Linked DNA regions of Homo sapiens: region 1 is linked to region 2. Evidence: fine-mapped expression QTL. Tissue or cell type: whole blood. Region 2 holds a variant in brackets; the other region holds the start of a gene. All regions are shown on one strand. Distances are from middle to middle.

Region 1 (4,232 bases), 56 kb before region 2:
AGTGAGCCAAGACTGCGCCACTGAACTCCAGCCTGAGTGATAGAGTGAGACTCCATCTCAAAAAAAAAAAAAAAGGAAAGAAAAGAAAAGAAACAGTCCTCTTACGGTAATGAGGGTCACCTGAAAGTTTCTAGGTAAAGGCAGTGTATGCCCCAGGAAGGGCTGAGGAGTTCCAGATGTTACTGCTGTGAGCTCAGGGGCTCGCCACTGACCAGTCCCTTGACTTGCATCTTGAAAAATCAGAACTCACTTTGCGGCTCTAGCTTCTGGATGATGGGCAGAGCACTGGTCATGGCCACGGAGGTGATGGTCTTCACACCGTTCTCTGCCATCTCACACACAGACTTCAGGTAGGGATACTGGTCCTTTGTACTGAGATAGGCTGAGGACATGAGGTCATACGTGGAGCTCACCAAGGGCAGGTTGACCACCCGAGTCACCACACTCTGCAATCAAAGTAGGGAGGGTATGCTTATTAATCTCTCAAAACACAAAAGGAGAGAAAGTAGACAAAGGCTACTCAAAATTCATACCGGTTGTGGATCAACTGCAACGGATGCCATTTTTCTTCCTGGAGAAAGAAATCTGCAGAAAAGAGACTTATTTCAGAACACCGGGATAAGACTCTCCCAAATTCATTCCCCAACCCAAGCAAATGCTGATTACAAGTAGAGAAAAATGCAGGGTGAGCTCCCTGTAGTCTTCTGCACTTCTTTCCTCTCTCCAGCTCTCCAGGTCCCCCTCCTGAAAGACCCACACCCACACAACCCCACTCCCTCTTTTGAGGCAAAGTTTCAGAGCTTATGTGTAAACTTGCAATACTCAGGAGGGAGAAGTAAAGTTGTTGACATACTTCTCTTGTTTCTCCGAGTATCTGTTAACAAAAATGCTAGCCAAGCCGGACGCGGTGGCTCACGCCTGTAATCCCAGCACTTTGGGAGGCCGAGGGGGGTGGACTGCTTGATGTCAGGAGTTCAAGACCAGCCTGACCAACGTGGTGAAACCCCGTCTCTTCTAAAAATACAAAAATTAGCCGGGCGTGGTGGCGGGCGCCTGTTATCCCAGCTGCTCTGGAGGCTGAGGCAGGAGAATCGCTTGAACCCGGGAGGCGGAGGTTGCAGTGAGCCTAGATGGCGTCACTGCACTCCAGCCTGGGCGACAGAGCGAGACTCCGTCAAAAAAAAAATGCGGTTTTCTAACGCGTTTCCCTTTCGATAATGTCCCTTCGACAAATATTGTTTTCCCACAACCACCCAAGCAGGCCAAGGGACATTCGATAGCAATCGCCCTAAATCTGTTGGCAGGAAAGAAGCCTCAACGCACAAAGGCAAGGGTCGAAAGCGCGGGTTCAGCAGACCGCCCCTACCCAGCCAGGACCTGGAAGCCGCGAGGCGAGCGGGGGGTCTCGGACCATCACCCCCGCGTCCCGTCCACCTTTGAGCCCCGCGGGGAGCAGAGCAGCGGTCCCAAGGCCCCGGGGAGCCCCCCACCCCAACTGGGCGCCGCTGGGGGCCCGGGACCGGTTCGCTGGGGCACCCACTGGGCGCGCACTCACCGACGGACTGCAGCGAAAGGCGAAGAGCAGGCGCGTCCCGAAGACGACTCCGGCTGCCACGACCCGGTCAAAGCGTGGGGCCCGCGGGCGCCCGGGCTATAAACCCCGCCTCGCCGCCCCTCCCCAAGCCTCCGCAGCACGTGACCCGCGGCAGCACGCCCTGTCCCAAGCCCGAGTGTCACCCTCGGGCACGTCCCGGCGCCCTCCCCCAACGCCGGCCCTCCTAGAGTGGTGGGGGCCCGGTCGGGTTGAGAGGGTGTGCTGCCTGGGCGAGGGGCCCCGCCACGGGGAGAGGAGCCTGTCGGGAGCCGGGCGGGGGCCCGGCCTGGGGAGGCTGGGAGTTGGAGGTAGCCCTGCCTGGAGTCGGGGCGCTGCCTGGAGTCGGGGCGCTGCCTGTGGTCGGGGTCCTGCCTGTGGTCGGGGTCCTGAGAGGCCCGGGGCAAATGGGGATGGCGCCCAGGCCGGCTTTGGGGTTTTGAAAAATGCAAACAAATTCACACCAACTTGTTGAACGGCGTTAGTCCTCAGAATAGAACTCTAAAAATGGAAGCGGTGGCTCACGCCTGTAATCACAACACTTTGGGATGCTGAGGCGAGAGGATCTGTCGAGCCTAGGAGTTCGAGACCAGCCTGGCGAAGATTTTTATTTTATTTTAAAAAATAGCCCAGCGTGGTGTCGTGCGCCTGTGGCCCCAGCTACCTGCGAGGCTAAGATGGGAGGATCGCTTGAGCCTGGGAGGTCGAGGCTGCAGTGAGCCGAGATCGCGTGGCGCTGCACAATGGCTTCTACGCTGTTATTTTTAGCGAAGTAATAACTTTTAAAAGTTTTGTGGCGGCTGGGCGCGGTGGCTCACGCCTGTAATCCTAGCACTTTGGGAGGCCGAGGCGAGCGAATCACCAGCCTGGCCAACATGGCGAAACCCCGTCTCTCTCAAAATACAAAGAAAGCAGCCCAGCGTGGTGGCGCGCGCCTGTAGTCCCAGCTAGTCCCGGCTGTTTAGCGGGGTTGGGGGCAGGCGGGTGGGTGGCTGAGGTGAAAGAATCTTTTGAGCCCAGGTGGTCGAGGCTGCAATGAGTCGAGATCGCGCCACTGTACCACTGCACCCCAGCCTGAGTGACTGAGACCCTGTCTAAAAAAAAAAAAAGAAAAGAAAAAAGAAAAAGAAAACAAAAAACTTAACTCCAGATCACTCCAGAATGACAGCTGCCTAGGGTTATGTGACATAGGCAACTTTATACGTGCAGGGTTATGCATTGTTTTTCAAAGACAACTTAAAACGTCATCTGAGTCCCAGTTGTGTTTTTTTGTTGTTGTTGTTTTGTTTGTTTGTTTCTTGTGTAAAACGCACAGATTTGGAACGAGATTATTTGAGCAGACAAGTTGCGCCAGCGCCCGAGGCCAGATAGGGCTCGTGGGACTTCTTCCCCCGTGAGTGGCGGGGGATTTCCAGATGAAGCTGTCCGGCCTCGGCCCCCACTCCCCCCCCCCGGCCCCCGACACAGCTCGCAGGGAGGATACAGCAGAGAGGAGGGTTGGGAGGTGGGAAGGGAGCAGGCGCTGGCGCCGCGGGTCCGCCCCCTGAGAGGCCCACAGCGTTGGAGTCCCTGGCTCCAGCCAGGAGGGACTGGCTTTGTGAAGCTTTGGAGTTGTAACTGTAGGAAGCTCTCAGAGACTTTTACCCCAATTTGTTTTCATTTTCTGTTGTTGTTGTTGTTGTTGTTGTTTTTTGAGACGGAGTCTCGCTCTGTCGCCAGGCTGGAGTGCAGTGGCGCGATCTTGGCTCACTGCAACCCCAGCCTCCCGGGTTCAAGTGATTCTCTTGCCTCAGCCTCCCGAGTAGCTGGGACTACAAGCGCGGGCCACCACGCCCAGCTAATTTTTGTATTTTTAGTAGAGACGGGGTTTCACCATGTTGGCCAGGATGGTCTCGATCGCTTGACCTCGTGATCCGCCCGCCTTGGCCTCCCAAAGTGCTGGGATTACAGGCGTGAGCCACCGCACTCGGTCTAACCCAGTTTCTTAACCAATCTTGCATGCACACAGATACTGTTGATCATATTTAAAGCTCCAAACGGACCCATTAAAATGGTATCCCTTATCCCATTATACCTGAATATATAATAGTACTTACTTAGCAAGAAAAATTAAAGTATTTTTACCCCTCCTCCCCACATGTAATTCAAAATAAAATACTAAGCCATAAATACTGAACCATAAAATGTTATGAAGTCCAAAAATGTTCTGGTTTGGGTTTTTTCCTATGTTGCCATCTTCAGTGTTTTAAGTAATTAAATTATTATGTTTTTCTTTTCTTTTTCGTGTTCCGGCGCTGTTTGTTCCCTAAGCAAATGTTTGCTCTGCTTATTGATAATCCATCCCTGCTCTAATGACCTCTTACTTTGCATCAGAAGACTCTCGCCCTTTCACCTACAAAATGCCTCCATCTTTTCCTTTTTTGTTTTAAACCTGTGAGTCATTTCCTCACTTAAGGCTGAGCAAGCTTCTTTTTGCTTTTATTTGCCTGTGAAGCAGAGGGCCCCAGGGAATAATTTTGGGAACAAGAGACTCTTCAAGCCCACAAAGGATGAAGCACATCAAATTCTGCATCCCCAACTGTTTTTCAGCTTCGTGAGTCTGAGAACATGAAACCAGTGGCAAGAATAACACCCAAGGTGA
Region 2 (4,489 bases):
GGCTAGAGTGCAGTGGCATGATCTCCGCTCACTGCAACCTCCACCTCCCTGGTTCAAGCAATTCCCCTACCTCAGCCTCCCGAGTAGCTGGGATTACAGGTGCATGCCACCACACCCAGTTAATTTTTTTGTATTTTTAGTAGAGATGGGGTTTCACCATGTTGGCCAGACTGTTCTCGAACTCCTGACCTGAGGCAATCCACCTGCCTCAGCCTCCCAAAGTGTTGGGATTACAGGCATTAGCCACCATGGCCTCCTTAATTCTTTTCTGCCAAAAGTCAAGAACCCTTATGGCCTCCTGGGCTGATCCCCAGTTTGGGGAGTTGCCCTGTGACAGTTAGAGAACCCAGATGTCTTTATATTGTAAAATTACTTTAGGTCTTTGTGCCGACAGTTTGAAGACAGCTGTCAAAGGGGACTTCTAGCTCTGGGCTCCAGTACATTAAATAAGAAATATCCTGATGTACCCCCAGATCAACCTGCATTAGAATCACTGTAGGTATTTTTACAAATATAGGTTCTGAGGCCCCACCGCATACCCACTTAATTAGAATGGGGAGAAGGGGAGTCTGTGGTTTTACCAAGCTTTGTGAATGATTTTTAAGCATTCTGCTGCATTGCTTTCTAAACCCAGGCCTGTTTCCCACACTACTGTAATCAAGAGGGAACACTGAAGTTTCCTCAGTTCCTTCCTGTTTTTTCCTGTTTCCTTCTGCAGTGACCAACACTATCAGAAATGGCATTTTGGCAGGGACAGGGAGTACAGGAATGGAAACAGGAAAGGCATAAACAAGACTCCTCCTCTGCCCCAGGACTCTCTCCTGTGGGTCACATTACCAGTGAAGGCTTGTGAACTCTGATTTAGCTAAGTTAATTTTGTGCAAAAAAATAAATTTTGGCCCGGTGCGGTGGCTCACACCTGTAATCCCAGCACTTTGGGAGGCCGAGGCAGGTGGATCATGAGGTTAGTTCAAGACCAGCCTGTCCAAGATGGTGAAACCCTGTCTCTACTAAAAATACACGCAAAAAATTAGCCAGCGTGGTGGTGGGCGCCTGTAACCCCAGCTACTCGGGAGGCTGAGGCAGGAAAATTGCTTGAACCCAGGAGCTGGAGGTTGCAGTAAGCCGAGATCACGCCACTGCACTCCAGCCTGGGCCACAGAGAGGGACTCCATCTCAAAAAAAAAAAAAAAAAAAGAATTCTGGGGAGTTGTAGTGCTTGTTAAAAACAGATTCCGGGCCGGGCGCAGTGGCTCACGCCTGTAATCCCACCACTTTGGGAGGCCGAGGTGGGTGGATCACAAGGTCAGGAGTTCAAGGCCAGCCTGACCAAGATGGTGAAACCCCATGTCTACTAAAAATACAAAAATTAGCTGGGTGTGGTGGCGGGTGCCAGTAATCCCAGCTATTCGGGAGGCTGAGGCAGATAATTGCTTGAACCCTGGAGGCGGAGGTTGCCAGTAAGCCAAGATTGCACCATTGCACTCCAGCCTGGGCAATAGAGGGAGACTTCATCTCAAAAAAAAAAAACACAGATTACAAGGTCCTTTAGTAGAGATGATGATACCTTAATCTAGATGATTCAAATGTAGGTAGCTCTCAGAACACACTTTGGAGAACAATGACTTAAATCCAGTGAAGAAAATCTCCAAGAAGCTGTGACAATATGTGGTCTCTTGAAATCTAGAGATTGGTGCTACATGTGATGGCTCACCCCTGTAATCCTAGCATTATGGGAGGCCAAGGCGGGTGGATCACTTGAGATCAGGAGTTGAGACCAGCCTGGCCAATATGGTGAAACCCCATCTCTACCAAAAATACAAAAATTAGCCAGGTGTGATGGCGCGTGCCTGTAATCCCAGCTACTTGGGAGGCTGAGGCAGGAGAATCGCTTGAACCCAGGAGTGGGAGGTTGCAGTGAGCTGAGATCGTGCCACTGCCCCTCAGCCTGCACTGAGCTAGACTCCATCACAGAAAGAAATCTAGAGATTAGCTACTGAATATTGACAGCTTTATCTTCCCAACTAGCAAAACGATCCCTGCTAGAAGGAACAGATTCATTTTGGAAAAAGTATTCAGTAATCTCTGAAGCACAGAAACATTTTTTTCATTCTTGCTATGCAAACAGATTGTTGGCCTTCTTCAGTGAGGCAGGCCAGGACAAAATCTCAGCAGGCCCTTTCGACAGCATTTCTCCACAAATCAAATTAGGTCAAAGAGAAAATTCAGAGCAGTCTGAGGAAGGGAAAAAAAAAGCCCTGAAATGTGTTATAAAACTGGTGGGCAGGGGACAGGGGAACATCCCACCTACTTTGTTTGCTCTGGTAAAGGCTGGTGGCTTGTCACATGAACCCCAGGCCTTCCTGTTCTCGGCAGCTGCCTTCTGAGTCACTGTGGGCTGCAGGGGAGGGCCCCCTAACATCAGGGAAC[A/C]TAACAACCATATGACTCTTAGGTGAGGCCACTGCGCCAGGCCAATTCAAAAATTAAAGAGCGACTACATTGCCGATTTTCATTTATTTTAAGAACTTCTTTACTCCGTTTTTGTCTACAACTGCAAATTAGCAGAAGACAAAAAACAAACTAGTAAGTGGAATTCACATCTGGTAAGTGAGAACTGGTGCCAGTCCTATTAGTCACCAAGATCACTTAAGGGTGGAGTGCACTAGCAGGATAAAACATTAAACCAAAAGCAATACTTCCTTGTAACAGCTGGAGTTTCCTAAGAAATTTTTAAAATAAAAACCTAGAATGCCTAGCAGGCAAAATACCATAGTTAGAAAAGTCAACCTTTACTTTTCTCTTTTGATTGTAGTCAACTGTTGCATAATTTTTTTTTTTTTAGGCAGAGTCTTGTTCTGTCGTCCCAGCTGGAGTGCAGTTCACTGCAACCTTCGCCTCCTGGGTTCAAGTGATTCTCCTGCCTCAGCCTCCCCAGTAGCTGGGACTACAGGAGTATGCCACCAGGCCCAGCTAATTTTTTTTTTTTTTGTATTTTTAGTAGAGACAGGGTTTCTCCATGTTGGCTAGGCTGGTCTCGAACTCATGAACTTGGATCATCCACCTGCCTTGGCCTCCCAAAGTGCTGTGATTACAGGCGTGAGCCACCGCGCCTGGCCTGTTGCAGAATGTTGCTGGGTATATTATATTATACTATGTGAATTAAGAATTCTCTATTAAACAGTTTTAAGTTGTAAGAAAGCCACCCTAAGTTTAAAACTTTCAGTCTTTTAAAACTGATGCATTAAAGAACTACTCCAAATAAGAGAAACAACACTGAGGTGTGATTCATTTGAACTTGAGTCCCGGTTCCTTAACCCAATGCCTGGATGCTAGAGATGTTCAATAAAGACTTAATGACTGCATAACCAACTTATTAGCTGTAGAATAGTTATAATAATTAACTTCCTTGAGCCTTTGTTTTCTCTTCTGTGATCAGGGAAGAAACCTCTTCTGTCTACCTCAGAGAATTTTTGTAAGGATCAAATAAAATAATGTGTGTTTAAGTTTTGATTTCTTTCTTTTTTCTTTTTTTTTGAGATGGAGTTTTGCTCTTGTAATCCAGGCTGGAGTGCAGTGTGGTATGATCTCTGCTCACTGCAACCTCTGCCTCTGGGGTTCAAGCGATTCTCCTGCCTCAGTCTCCCGAGTAGCTGGGGTTACAAGTGTCCACTAACACGCCCGGCTAATTTTTGTATTTTTAGTAGAGATAGGGTTTCACCATATTGGCCATGCTGGTCTTGAACTCCTGACCTCAGGTGATACGCCTGCCTCGGCCTCCCAAAGTGCTGGGATTACATATACAACCTTTTTTTAAAAAAAAATTATTTTTATTTTTATTTTTATTTTTTGAGACAGAGTCTCGCTATGTCACCCAGGCTGGAGTACAGTGGGGCAGTCTTGGCTCACTGCAACCTCCGCCTCCCTGGTTCAAGCGATTCTTGTGCCTCAGCCTCCCAAGTAGCTGGGATTACAGATGTGAACCACCACACCAACTAATTTTTGTCTTTTTAGTAGAGACGGGGTTTTGCTATGTTGGCCAGGCTGGTCTTGAACTCCTGGCCTCATGTGATCCACCCGCCTCAGCCTCCCAAAGTGCTGGGATTACAGGTGTGAGCCACTGCATCTGGCCAATACAACCTCTTTTTTGATTAGAGCTTTGAAATTGGGGTAGGTTTACTGAAAATAGAACTGTACCAGAGAATTGCATCTGAAATATGCAAAGCTCACCTGGATATCTCAATAGCATGGCAATAACCACCCTATAACCTTTTTAAAAATAAATCTCAGTGGAAGTGATGCTGAAATCTCTCCTTAAGGTCCTCTTTCTCAATCAACTATAATTCAGCAAACATTAAACTTCAGTTACCCGGAAAAAGATTAGGTAATAAATGTGTTAATCATAGACTGGATCATAATCAGCACCGTCACCTAAAGAATACTCACCCCTTAAGTAATCCAAAAGAAAACTAAGAAGCAAAAATCCAGGGTT

Evidence for each region. PIP is the estimated chance that this variant, and not a neighbour inherited with it, causes the effect.
Region 1: PLIN2 starts here. The variant in region 2 is fine-mapped to the expression of PLIN2 in whole blood (TOPMed, PIP above 0.99).

What each region holds. Positions count from the first base shown.
Region 1 is chr9:19,125,864-19,130,095 of GRCh38, forward strand. It overlaps PLIN2 (perilipin 2), which reads right to left and starts at 1,629. Exons shown (of 8, transcript NM_001122.4): 1 at 1,556-1,629; 2 at 534-585; 3 at 251-446. The coding sequence starts at 563. RefSeq lists enhancers at 875-1,385, 1,386-1,895 and a silencer at 1,408-1,967.
Region 2 is chr9:19,182,056-19,186,544 of GRCh38, forward strand. No RefSeq gene overlaps it. Among named protein-coding and RNA genes, the nearest start is that of DENND4C, 46 kb to the right of the region's middle. RefSeq lists enhancers at 2,421-2,470, 4,449-4,489. The variant A/C (reference allele first, on the strand shown) is at 2,431.